2 separate regions of the Homo sapiens genome follow, and region 1 is linked to region 2. Evidence: fine-mapped expression QTL. A gene starts in region 2. The other region holds a variant in brackets. All regions are shown on one strand. Distances are from middle to middle. Region 1 has its middle 15 kb from the start of LINC03049. Region 2 holds the start of UBA2 (ubiquitin like modifier activating enzyme 2).

Region 1 (5,379 bases), 450 kb before region 2:
GTTCATATACGTGAACACCTTCTCTTCTTGGCGTATGTGCCTTATTTAGCAATAAAAACGTTTTTAAAATAGAGAGATATACTTCAGATATGAATAGATCTTTGTGGAAACCCAACCATAACACTGTTTTCATGTGAAAGGGGCTTGTGAATTTAAAAAAACCAGCAGCAGCTCCAGTGCAACAGTATATTGAGACACACACACAGCCATACACATTCATATAAAAAAGGTCTATTGATAAGTCTTTAACGTCTGAAGCCCTTTTCTTTATTTTATTTTTGCCTGGTGGTAGGCATAAATAACCCAGTAAGGATATCTACCCAAAGGGATATAAATCATTCTACCATAAAGACACATGCACACATGTATTCATTGCAGCACTCCACAGTAGTAAAGAAATGGAATCAACCTAAATGTCCATCGATGGCAGACTGGATAAATAAAATGTGATACATATGATGGAAAATATGGGATACCACGCAGTCATCAAAAAAGAATAAGATTGTGTCCTTTATGGGAACATGGATGGAGCTGGAGGCCATTATCCTTAGCAAACTAATGCAGGAACAGAAAACCAAATACCGCATGCTCTTACTTATAAGTGGTAGCTAAATGATGAGAACACACGGACACAAAGAGGGGAATAACACACACTGGAGCCTATTGGAAGGTGGAGGGTGGCAGGAGGGAGAGGATTAGAAAAAGTAACAATTGGGTACTAGGCTTGGTACCTGGGTGACAAAATAATCTGTACAACAGACCCACGTGACACGAGTTTACGTATGTAACAAACCTGCATATGTACCCATGAACTTAAAATAAAAGTAAAAAAAAAATTACCTAGGAATTTTCATCTCATTTTTGTTTTGACATATGCTGTGTATTCCCTGAGAACCCTAAAGATGAAAGTATTAACTCGTAAAAAAAGGAAAACTTGCTGATCTGATAAAGAAGTCTCCACAAATACAAATGAATTCTATCTATAATCACTTTCAGGAGGAAACATAATTAGAAAAATGAGGAAAACAAATTGTAAAAATTCTGGCAAGCTGGCATGGAGCCCAGGGGAAAGAGAGACATGCTCTCTCCAGAAGCCGTCAGAGTTGTGTATCTTCTCAAAGCTCTTGATTGTTCAGGACCTGTGAGGTTTAGTGTAAGGCAAAGAGTTTCCTCAGTACGCTGTGTCACAGTTCTGTGGAGACCAGGGGAAGCGCAAAGCACAAAATCCTATTGAATTAATTTGGTTTTTAAATTTTTTTTTTTTTTTTTTTTTTGAGAGGGAGTCTTGCTCTGTCGCCTAGGCTGGAGTGCAGTGGCGCGATCTCGGCTCACTGCAAGCTCCGCCTCCCGGGTTCAAGCCATTCTCCTGCCTCAGCCTCCCGAGTAGCTGGGACTACAGGCAGGTGCTCGCCACCACACCCGGCCATTTTTTTGTATTTTTAGTAGAGACGGGGTTTCACCGTGTCAGCCAGGATGGTTTCGATCTCCTGACCTTGTGATCCGCCCGCCTCGGCCTCCCAAAGTGCTGGGATTACAGGCGTGAGTCGCCGCGCCCGGCCTATTTGGTTTAAATTGTTAACTGTCATTTGTTCGTGTGCACCAAACCCAAGGACTGCCTTTTTCTCTTTCTTGTTCAGTATCTTACATACATTGTTATAATATGTCACTAGCAGAAGATTAAAACAGAAGAAAATATATCAGGACATTCTCACAGATGAACATTTGATTAGAATGGAATTCTAGTTAAATAAACTTGGTAATTAACCTCAAACAGAAAATGCCTGGTGTCTGCATAAAAATAGATTACTGATTTTTTTCCCTCCCACTGTCTTGCCGGTGGTGGTTTTTTCTCCCCGCCCCCTTTTTCTTTTCAAACTGTAAAAGTAACACAAGCTCAATTAAAACTGAGAAAATACAAAAAGGTTGAAAAAAAAGGAAAACAACAATTTTCCAGAATCCCACTACCATAGATGATCTCACAGTTTCATCTGTTTTACCTTTGTCAATACATATGTATTCTAATTTTTAAATTAAAATAAATATTAAGTTTCATACTTTGTCTTTTACATTTTATGTTTATTTTACATTAGCATGTTTCACATCTTTAAATGGTCTTCAAAAGCATTATTTTCAATGACTACAAATACGTCCCACCATTCTTATTATTTCACTTTTAAGTAGGTTTCTTTTAATTTTGCTATGTTTATTTTCTTAGGATTTATTTATGAGATAATTTTTGAAATGATGTATTTATGAAATAACTATTTAATGATAAG[G/A]TAAAAACTTTCTTTTCTTTTTTCTTTTTTCTTTCTTTTTTTTTTTTTTTTGAGACGGAGTCTTGCTCTGTCCCCCAGGCGGGAGTGCAGTGGGGCGATCTCGGCTCACTGCAAGCTCCGCCTCCCGGGTTCACGCCATTCTCCTGCTTCAGCCTCCCGAGTAGCTGGGACTACAGGCGCCCGCCACCGTGCCCAGCTTTTTTTTTTTTTTTTTTTTTTTTTTGTATTTTTAGTAGAGATGGGGTTTCGCCATATTAGCCAGGATAGTCTCAATCTCCTGACCTCATGATCCGCCCGTCTTGGCCTCCCAAAGTGCTGGGATTACAGGCGTGAGCCACCATGTCCAGCCAAAACTTTCTTAAAGTTTAATATTCCTTTAAATGACGACATCTATTTTCATCCCCACAAGAGTATGTGAGTGTGGAGATATATGTACTCTTCTTTATGAAATTATGTGCTCAGAATATATTTTTATTTTTCAAATTTGACAGGTAAAAACTGTGTCACTTGTTTCTTTAATATTTATTATACCTTATTAGGGTTGCCAAATAATAGATATTTTCATCTACTCCTGATTTCCTCATCATTCTGGATGCCTCCCTTTCTAATCCACGCAACCTTTGAATTCTTCCTCATGTAAATCCCAGACACTAAGTTTTCTTGACTGATTTCAAGCATTTATTCTTTTGGATAAACTTGATTAATTTCCTTTGAAACAAAGATGAGCTGGGAAGAGTTAACATCCCTACAAGGTGGACTCACGCCATACAAGAGCGCAATTTAGTTCTTCATCTGTTCAAATTTCATGTTGTACTTCTCAGTAAAATGCTGTACCTTTCAGTATAATATGTACATCTAATGTTAAGTCTAGCAGAGTGCCCAGCACTTGGTAGATGTAAAATCAAGCTTTAAAATGAGTAAACAAATGAAGCACAATGCCTGGGTTTGTCCAGCAGGTCAGACGAGGGCCGGAACTCAAGCCTCAGGCCTCTTAGCCCCAAGTCCCAAGTTTAACTCTCTGCATGAGACCTAATTATGCCAGCAAGACTCAGACAATAGAGACACTACTTATTTTCCCACTTTTTTGTGGGCCATACTCACTGGAGCCTGGCACTGCTCTACTCTCTGTAAAAGTGCAGGTGAAACCTGGTTTCTGTCTTTCAGTCACACACAACTCACCTAACCTAGTCTCTACACCTTAGCCCCATGACTGGCCTGCTGGGAGATAAAGTGGCCCTGTTCGATGCATTTGGAAGTAGGCTCAGTGGCATCTTGTAATTTGCCCCAGGTGGCAGATCCTACAAGTACCTGACACCAACACTCCCTCTACGTTAGCTTCTCCCTCCACTCTCTTTCTTCCTTCCTCCTGGGCCAAGACTAGGTGGGAGTCCTGGTCCCAGTAGTAGAATGCAGAAGCAACCGAAGCCTCTATGCTCAGCATCTATGGAGAGCGTCTTTGCAGAAATTTCAGCCTCCTCAGGAAAATAGCAGAAAATCACAGACGCTACGAAGAGATTAAATTAAAAGGGCTTGTGATGAGCTCATGCAGGTCATTTCTAGAGTCACTTTTCAACCAGGCCTTCCAGGGCCTGCAGACTCTGCAGCTCCAATAAAGGCAGAGCCAGAGAAAGGCTTTCTATGGCTGTTGATGTCATTGTAACCTCCCAAGGCTGATGAATCCTGGGGTGACATGTATGTTATTTAGCTGGGTCCTCATTTTACAAATGAGGACAGAGCTTCAGAAAGATAAAACGGCTTACCTATGATCCTACAGCTAGTCAGCGGCAGGGCCTAGACCTATCCTGGCTCTGCCTAATTCCAGTCCACATGTTCTCAATGGCCTCACGTGTCACAACCCCTCACCATGTCCCAAGATCTCCTGCTGGGCCTCCCACGCGCCACACACAGGACACCGTCCCTGGGCTCTGAGAGTTGAGTTGCAGTTGTTTTACTGGAATCAGCCTGGTGAAAACTAAATCAGAAAGTCTGACTAGGAGGACCAAAGGGCTCCTGCAAAAGTCCTGGGCCCACAGCAGGGTTCCCATTCCCCAGGATCACCCACTCCTCATCTGCAAGGATGAAATCTTCTCCTTGGTCATTCCGTGCAGACCTCAGTGAGAACCAGCCCAGTGTGGAGACGGGGCTAATGTCAGACAGATTAGGATGAGGACGGCTCCCTCATGACCCAGTAACAGGAGAATGAGCGCCTGCCCGGGCTGGGGCAGGAAGGAGATGCGAGGTGCTTGAGGGCATGCTGGGGCTGAACCCAGAGAGGGGCAGCATCTGAGTTTGGGTTTCTGTGAAGAAACCTCCTCGTCCTGTGAATTGTCTGTCAGCTCCGTTTTAGAAACATTAAAATCGTTATGTTTTCCCAGCCCCGACTGTCACCTTTGCATCCTGGTCACATCCTTCTCCCACCTGTACTAACTTCCCATGCAAGACTCACCCAAAATGTGGAGCTAAAAGTCAGTGGGGAGGCAAGGACAGGTGTACACCACAACAGGCCGGTCAGAGAAAACTGGCTTTGGCCTTAGTTTGAGTCCTGGAGGAAAGTATGGGGGATGTGGGCCTGACCAGGGCCCCCTGAACATCTTACCAGCTGCATCCTCCGCATCAGGCCTCAAGGCCAGGTGGATGCTATCTTTTGGCCTCTGAGCCCATCACTGCCAGGGAAGTTCCAGGACTTGCAGCCATATTGGTTGACTCCAGGGCTGGTCATGCTCCATTCTACCTACCACAATTCAGTTGTCAAATTCTGCCAGCAACTTTCTGCTCACTCTTAAAGGAACAAATTCTTGGGAGTTCTTGATTCCTAGGGGAGCCAGTCTCATCCCTTCTGGCAGTCTCGCCTTTTTCCATTGGCGAACATGACCCTAAGTGGGCTTGAGCTTTAGAGGCTGTCCAGAAATGCCAGCGAGCGGAGTGTGTGTGACTCACGACCTGCACCAGAGGCTCTGAGGGACCCCCTGTGATCAGCTGCCCTCCCCCGCCTCACTTCCCAGAGGTCACTACGGGACCTGAGGGCCTACAGACCAGAAACTTGGCTCTGTTGAAACTCTCTCAAGGGTGGAACTTTACCTTCTACCCTAGGAGAGGAGTGTGA
Region 2 (5,379 bases):
TTCACCCATTTTTTCCCTCCTATATGACAGGCAGGATTAATCTGGTATCACAAATAGAAGCTCCATCAAGTTATAGAAATGGTATGAGAAATATAGTTACCTGTGCCTTTGATCTTCCAACATGTTTCTTTTGAAACAAAAACTGTCTGTTGAGGTTGCTTACATCAATAGTATCCAGATCAATCTACAAATGCATAAACCCCAGATAAATGACAAACGTTTACGTATGTTTGAGCTGTATCACTACTCTCAGCACCTGTAATCCAGAACTTTTGATATCTGCTACATTAGTGGAGAAAGCGTTTTTCGAATCGCCATACCAAAATTGTTAAACTGATAAAGAATAATTTAATGCATGTAAGAATCTAGATTTAATGTCAGAGATAAACTTCTCAAAAATACTTTGAAAGAATGGTATATTTTGTTTGTTTAATCATCCTGGAAAATATTTCAGGAAACTCCCTGGATGCCATAAAAATATGTGAATTCATTAAAACTATATGTGCTGTCGAGGTAAACACTAACTGAAAATATATTAACATATTTCTCTACACCGGGAGTGGTGGCTCATACCTGTAATCCCAACACTTTGGGAGGACAAAGTGAGAGAATCGCTTGAGCCCAGACCTTCAAGACCAGCCTAAGCAAAATAGTGAGACCCTGGTGGCTACAAGAAATAGAAAAAATAAAATTAGGTGGCACATGCCTGTAGTCACAGCTACTCGGGAGGCTGAGGTGGAGGATCACTGGAGCCTGGGAGGCGGAGGTTGCAGTGAGCCGAGATCGGGCCACTGCACTCTAGCCAGGGTGACAGGGCCAGACCCTGTCTCAAAAAATACTAAAGTATTTCTCTTTCAATCGAATTACTCTTTCAAGTACAAAATATTAAATTTAACTATGCCCTGTTCTTTTTCTTTGTTTTTTGAGACAGGGTCTCCCTCTGTTGCCCAGGCTGGAGTGCAGTGGTGCAAACACAGCTCACTGCAGCCTCGACCTCCCAGGCTCAAGCGATCCTCCTGACACAGCCTCCCGGGTAGCTGGGACCACAGGCGCACACCACCACGCCCCGCTAATTTTCTTTTTTTGTAGAGACGGGGTTTCTCTATGTTGCCCAGGTTCTGTTCTTTTTCTTAAATGATACATGGCAAACGTTTATTGAATTTTTGCTGCCTCCCTTAATTCAAGCCTTCATCCATACACAATTTCATTTACTATTAACCTGAGAACTGTGAAAGGAAACTTTTACACATGGTTAAAAAAGTATCATGTTTTAAGTTTTATCTAATTTTTGCTTAAATATATAATACATAAAGGAAAGAAACAATGACTCAGTCGGCCACCCGTACTTTTTTGTTCATTCCATGTTTCCACTAGCCCTTAAGACACTTTAAACTCACACCGAAGGGCCAGTAACATCTCCAATCTCTAAAAAGTTTGCATTAGTAGAAATAACGATTCAAAATAGCACTGGCTTGTCAACGTACACCAATGCAAAAGGCACAGTCCTAACGTCTTTAATGAAACAAGCGAGTGTACCGTCTACTGTGAGAGCAATGACAGTCACGCAGCCTGCGGGAGCCCTGCCACTCGCTCCGTGACCCAGGGTAAGTTACTCAACCCCATTGCGTCTCCCTTTCCTCATCTGTTAAAAATAAAGCAGGGTGGAAATAGCGTTTGCACTCCTCGGGTGGTATGAAGATGGTGCGCGTTCCGTGTGTAAACCCGCTCGTGACCAGCGCTCGGGACGCGTTGGTCGCTATCATTGCCATCCTCCGCCCCGCGTCGTTACTTCGGAGTTACGACAGGGACCTCAAAATTAAAGTCACAACATCCGCGAGGGACTCAATCCTCTCCCGCATCTCCTAACAGCCGGGAATTTGTTTTGAAGGGAGGATAAGAGGCGGCTTCACGCCCACGAAGCGCCACACATTGGCGCTGCCGGGGAGGCGGGGGCCCGCGGCCTCCTCGGCGTCCGGAGCCGGCCCAGCGAGCGGAGGCCCGCCCCGTGCCCAAAGAACAGTCTCCTCCCGCGGGGGGGGCACAACCCGAGCCTCTCAGCCTGCCCCCGCTCCGCAACTCCGGTCCCGGGCTCCGGGCCCTGAGCCTCAGAGCCCCTGGAGCCCCGGAACCCCCGAATCCCAGCCCCCGCACCACAGCCCGCCATTCACGCGCGCGCGCCCGGCCCTCACCAGGTCGATGTGGGAGAAACCGGTGAGCACGAGATTCTTGAGGAGCTCGCAGCCGATGCCGCCCGCCCCCACCACCAGCACCCGGCCCCCGGCCACCGCCTCAGCCAGCTCCCGGGGCAGCCCCCGCGACAGTGCCATGGCGGGACAACCACGAGCCGCGGCGGAGGCGGAGGCGGGAGAACCGAGCCGCGGCCGGAAGCGGGTGGGGGAAGGGCGGCCTGGTTTCCGCTCCTGCGCACTACAGCCTCCGGCAGACACAGGCAGGGCACATCGCGCCGGGGTGTGCTGCAGCCCGCGGGGACCGGCAGGCTCTTGCAAAGGGCTGGCGACCTCCAGCTGAGACCGGCGGTGTTATTCCCACACCAGCATAGGCCCGCCATCAGACCTAAAAAGTCTAAGGGTCGCCTTCTAGCCTGGGGTTTCAACTCCCAGCCAAGACTTCCTTACAGGTTAGAAAACTGATGTCCCTATACGTAAAGAGCTCTTACAAATTAACAAGTGTCACCCCCAAAAAAATATAGGCAAAGGATGTGAACAGGAAACTCACAAAAAATTGGACAATATGATCAATAAGCGTATTAAAATGTAAACCATAAAAGAATCGCTTGAACCCTGGAGGTGGAGGTTGCAGTGAACCAAGATCGCACCACTTCACTCCAGGCTGGGTAACAGAGCAAGACTCCGTCTCAAAAAAGAAAAAAATGTAAACCATGCAAAATGGTAAGATTTTCACCTGCCGGGCGCGGTGGCTTACGCCTGTAATCCCAGCACTTTGGGAGGCCGAGGCGGGTGGATCACGAGGTCAGGAGTTCTGAAACCAGCCTGACTAACATGGTGAAACCCCCATCTCTACTAAAAATACAAAAATTAGCCGGGCGTGGTGGCGTGCGCCTGTAATCCCAGCTACTCGGGAGGCTGAGGCAGGAGAATCGTTTGAACCCAGGAGGCAGAGGTTGCAGTGAGCCGAGATCGCGCCACTGCACTCCAGCCTGGGCAACAGACTCCGTCTCAAAAAAACAAACAAACAAACAAACAAAAAAAAACACCGAAACAGCTGGGGGTGGTGGCACAAGCCTGTAGCCCCAGCTACTCAGGAGGCTGAGGCAGGAGAATTGCTTGAACCCAGGAGGCGGAGGTTGCACCACTGCACTCCAGCCTGAGCAATACAGCGAGACTCTGTCTCAAAAAAAAAAAAAAGTTTTTCACCTACTAAACTGGTAGAAAGAAAAAATAAGTAACACTTATCAAGGGATTGGGAAACAAGCACTCCAACACACTCCAGGTAAAGATTCCAAAGCAAAGCTTCTCTAGAGGGCGTGGTGGCTTGCACCTGTAGTCCCAGCTACTCAGGAGGCTGAGGCAGGAGGATCACTTAAGCCTGAGAGGTCGAGGCTGCAGTGAGCTATGCCCTTACCACTGCACTCCAGCCTGAGAGACAGAGCAAGACCCTGTCTCGAAAAAAAAGAAAAAAAAACCCTAAAATTGTGCACAACTTTTGACTCATTCATTCCAATTCTAGGAAACTGTCCTGTAGCAGTTATCATTGATTTAAAATATATATAAATTTAGTTACAGGGATGGCCATCATGGGAATAAAAATTGGAAAATACAAGTGGCTAAAAATTGTATAAAGCTTTTGATGTATATTTAAAAAATAGAGCAATTATAAATTATGTTGTGGGAAAAATATTAATGGGAAAATGCTCCAAATATAATGTTAAATGCAAGAAACAAGCCCACCCCATGATCACCTAGGCCTCATTATCCTCATCTACGTAGGCAGAGCATGTCTGAACATGGCTGGGAGTGTTTTTATACTGCTGTTATGGGGCTGAAGGGAAGGGGTTGATCATGTTAAAAATAAAGAAAGGGGAAGACTGGAAGGCAGCTGGATAAAGGGACAGTCTCCAGAACGGAGTAAAGACCCCTTCCTGGGATACTGCAGGAGCAGAAGATGGGAGTGGGTGAGGGCGGGGACCTGGGCTGATGAACATGGGCAGGTCTAAACAGCCAGGGTCACAGAGCAAAAACCTCCAGCAGCTAGAGCAGGTTCAGTGGCTTGATCAGGTGCCAGAAACAGCATAGGAAGCACTGGAGTGCACGTGTCAGAGGTGTACACAAGAGGCTGACCACTGCTCTTGGCTCTTTCGCTGCTCTCCTCCCCCCTAGAATGCCCACCAGAACGGCTGTGCAGACAACACCAGCCCTCTGGACTAGAGAGGAGCTACCTTCCTAGCTGCCACTGTGACAGCTGGCCCTGGACCCTGGAAGGGCAGACCAACCCACAGTCAGGAGGTCCTGGCCCGGCCCCGGCCCCGGCACCAGCACCCAAAGGCAAAAAGGCAACTCAGAAAAACAGAGGTTAATAACTTGTGAGTTAAAATAAGGTACATACAAACATATTTGGATGTAAACATTTGTTTTAATTTATATTAATAAAAGGAAATGCTCTACTTAAACAATAATTCATCTGGGTCTTCTTGTATAATACAAAATTCTTCCATGGGAGTCTGATGATTTGGGGGCCAGCAACTCTTCTCACATGTGTAAACTAGAATTGTTCCAAATTCCACAGAAAGACCTGAAAAATACCACATATTCAGGCTTCCAGCAAAAAGAGTTATGAGACTGATGTTACTAAAAGGAATGATTTTACCTTATAAGCTGAAAAAGTAATTAGGTAAAGCAAAAACAGTGCTTACTGCTTTCAGCTATAACAGAATCACAGTCTATCCTATAATAAGTGAATATTGATAACAAAAAAGCAAAATTAATTTAAAGTGGCAGGAAAATATACTTTAAAAATAAACAAAAATTTCAGCAAGTGTTCATTATAACTGTCTAGCTATCTGATGTTGAAAATCTATATTAATCTACATGGTTCATGTGATATACATAGCTTTTGGCTAGGTGCGGTGGCTCACAACTGTGATCCCTGCACTTTGGGAGGCCGACGGGGAAGGACAGCTTGAGCCCAGCCTAGGCAACATAGTGAGACACCTGTCTCTACAAAAAACAAAACAAACAAACAAACAAACAAAATATATATATATCTCATATAGCCTGGGCAACACAGTGAGACTTTACTAAAAAAAAAAAAATTCACTGGGTGTAACGGTGCACACCTGTAGTCCCAGCTACTCAGAGGAGACTAAGGCAGAAGGATCACTTGAGCCCAGGAGATAAAGGC

The links. PIP is the estimated chance that this variant, and not a neighbour inherited with it, causes the effect.
Region 1: its variant is the best candidate, but not a certain one, in a credible set for the expression of UBA2 in whole blood (INTERVAL, PIP 0.85).

The regions. Positions count from the first base shown.
Region 1 is chr19:34,873,319-34,878,697 of GRCh38, reverse strand. No RefSeq gene overlaps it. Among named protein-coding and RNA genes, the nearest start is that of LINC03049, 15 kb to the right of the region's middle. The variant G/A (reference allele first, on the strand shown) is at 2,277.
Region 2 is chr19:34,425,381-34,430,759 of GRCh38, reverse strand. UBA2 (ubiquitin like modifier activating enzyme 2) reads right to left here and starts at 2,379. Exons shown (of 17, transcript NM_005499.3): 1 at 2,190-2,379; 2 at 101-184. The coding sequence starts at 2,327. It overlaps PDCD2L (programmed cell death 2 like), which reads right to left. Exons shown (of 7, transcript NM_032346.2): 7 at 4,592-4,770. The coding sequence ends at 4,640. It overlaps LOC124904695 (a long non-coding RNA gene), which reads left to right and starts at 2,396. Exons shown (of 2, transcript XR_007067232.1): 1 at 2,396-2,638; 2 at 4,359-4,654. RefSeq lists silencers at 1,882-2,041, 2,112-2,221, 2,252-2,491.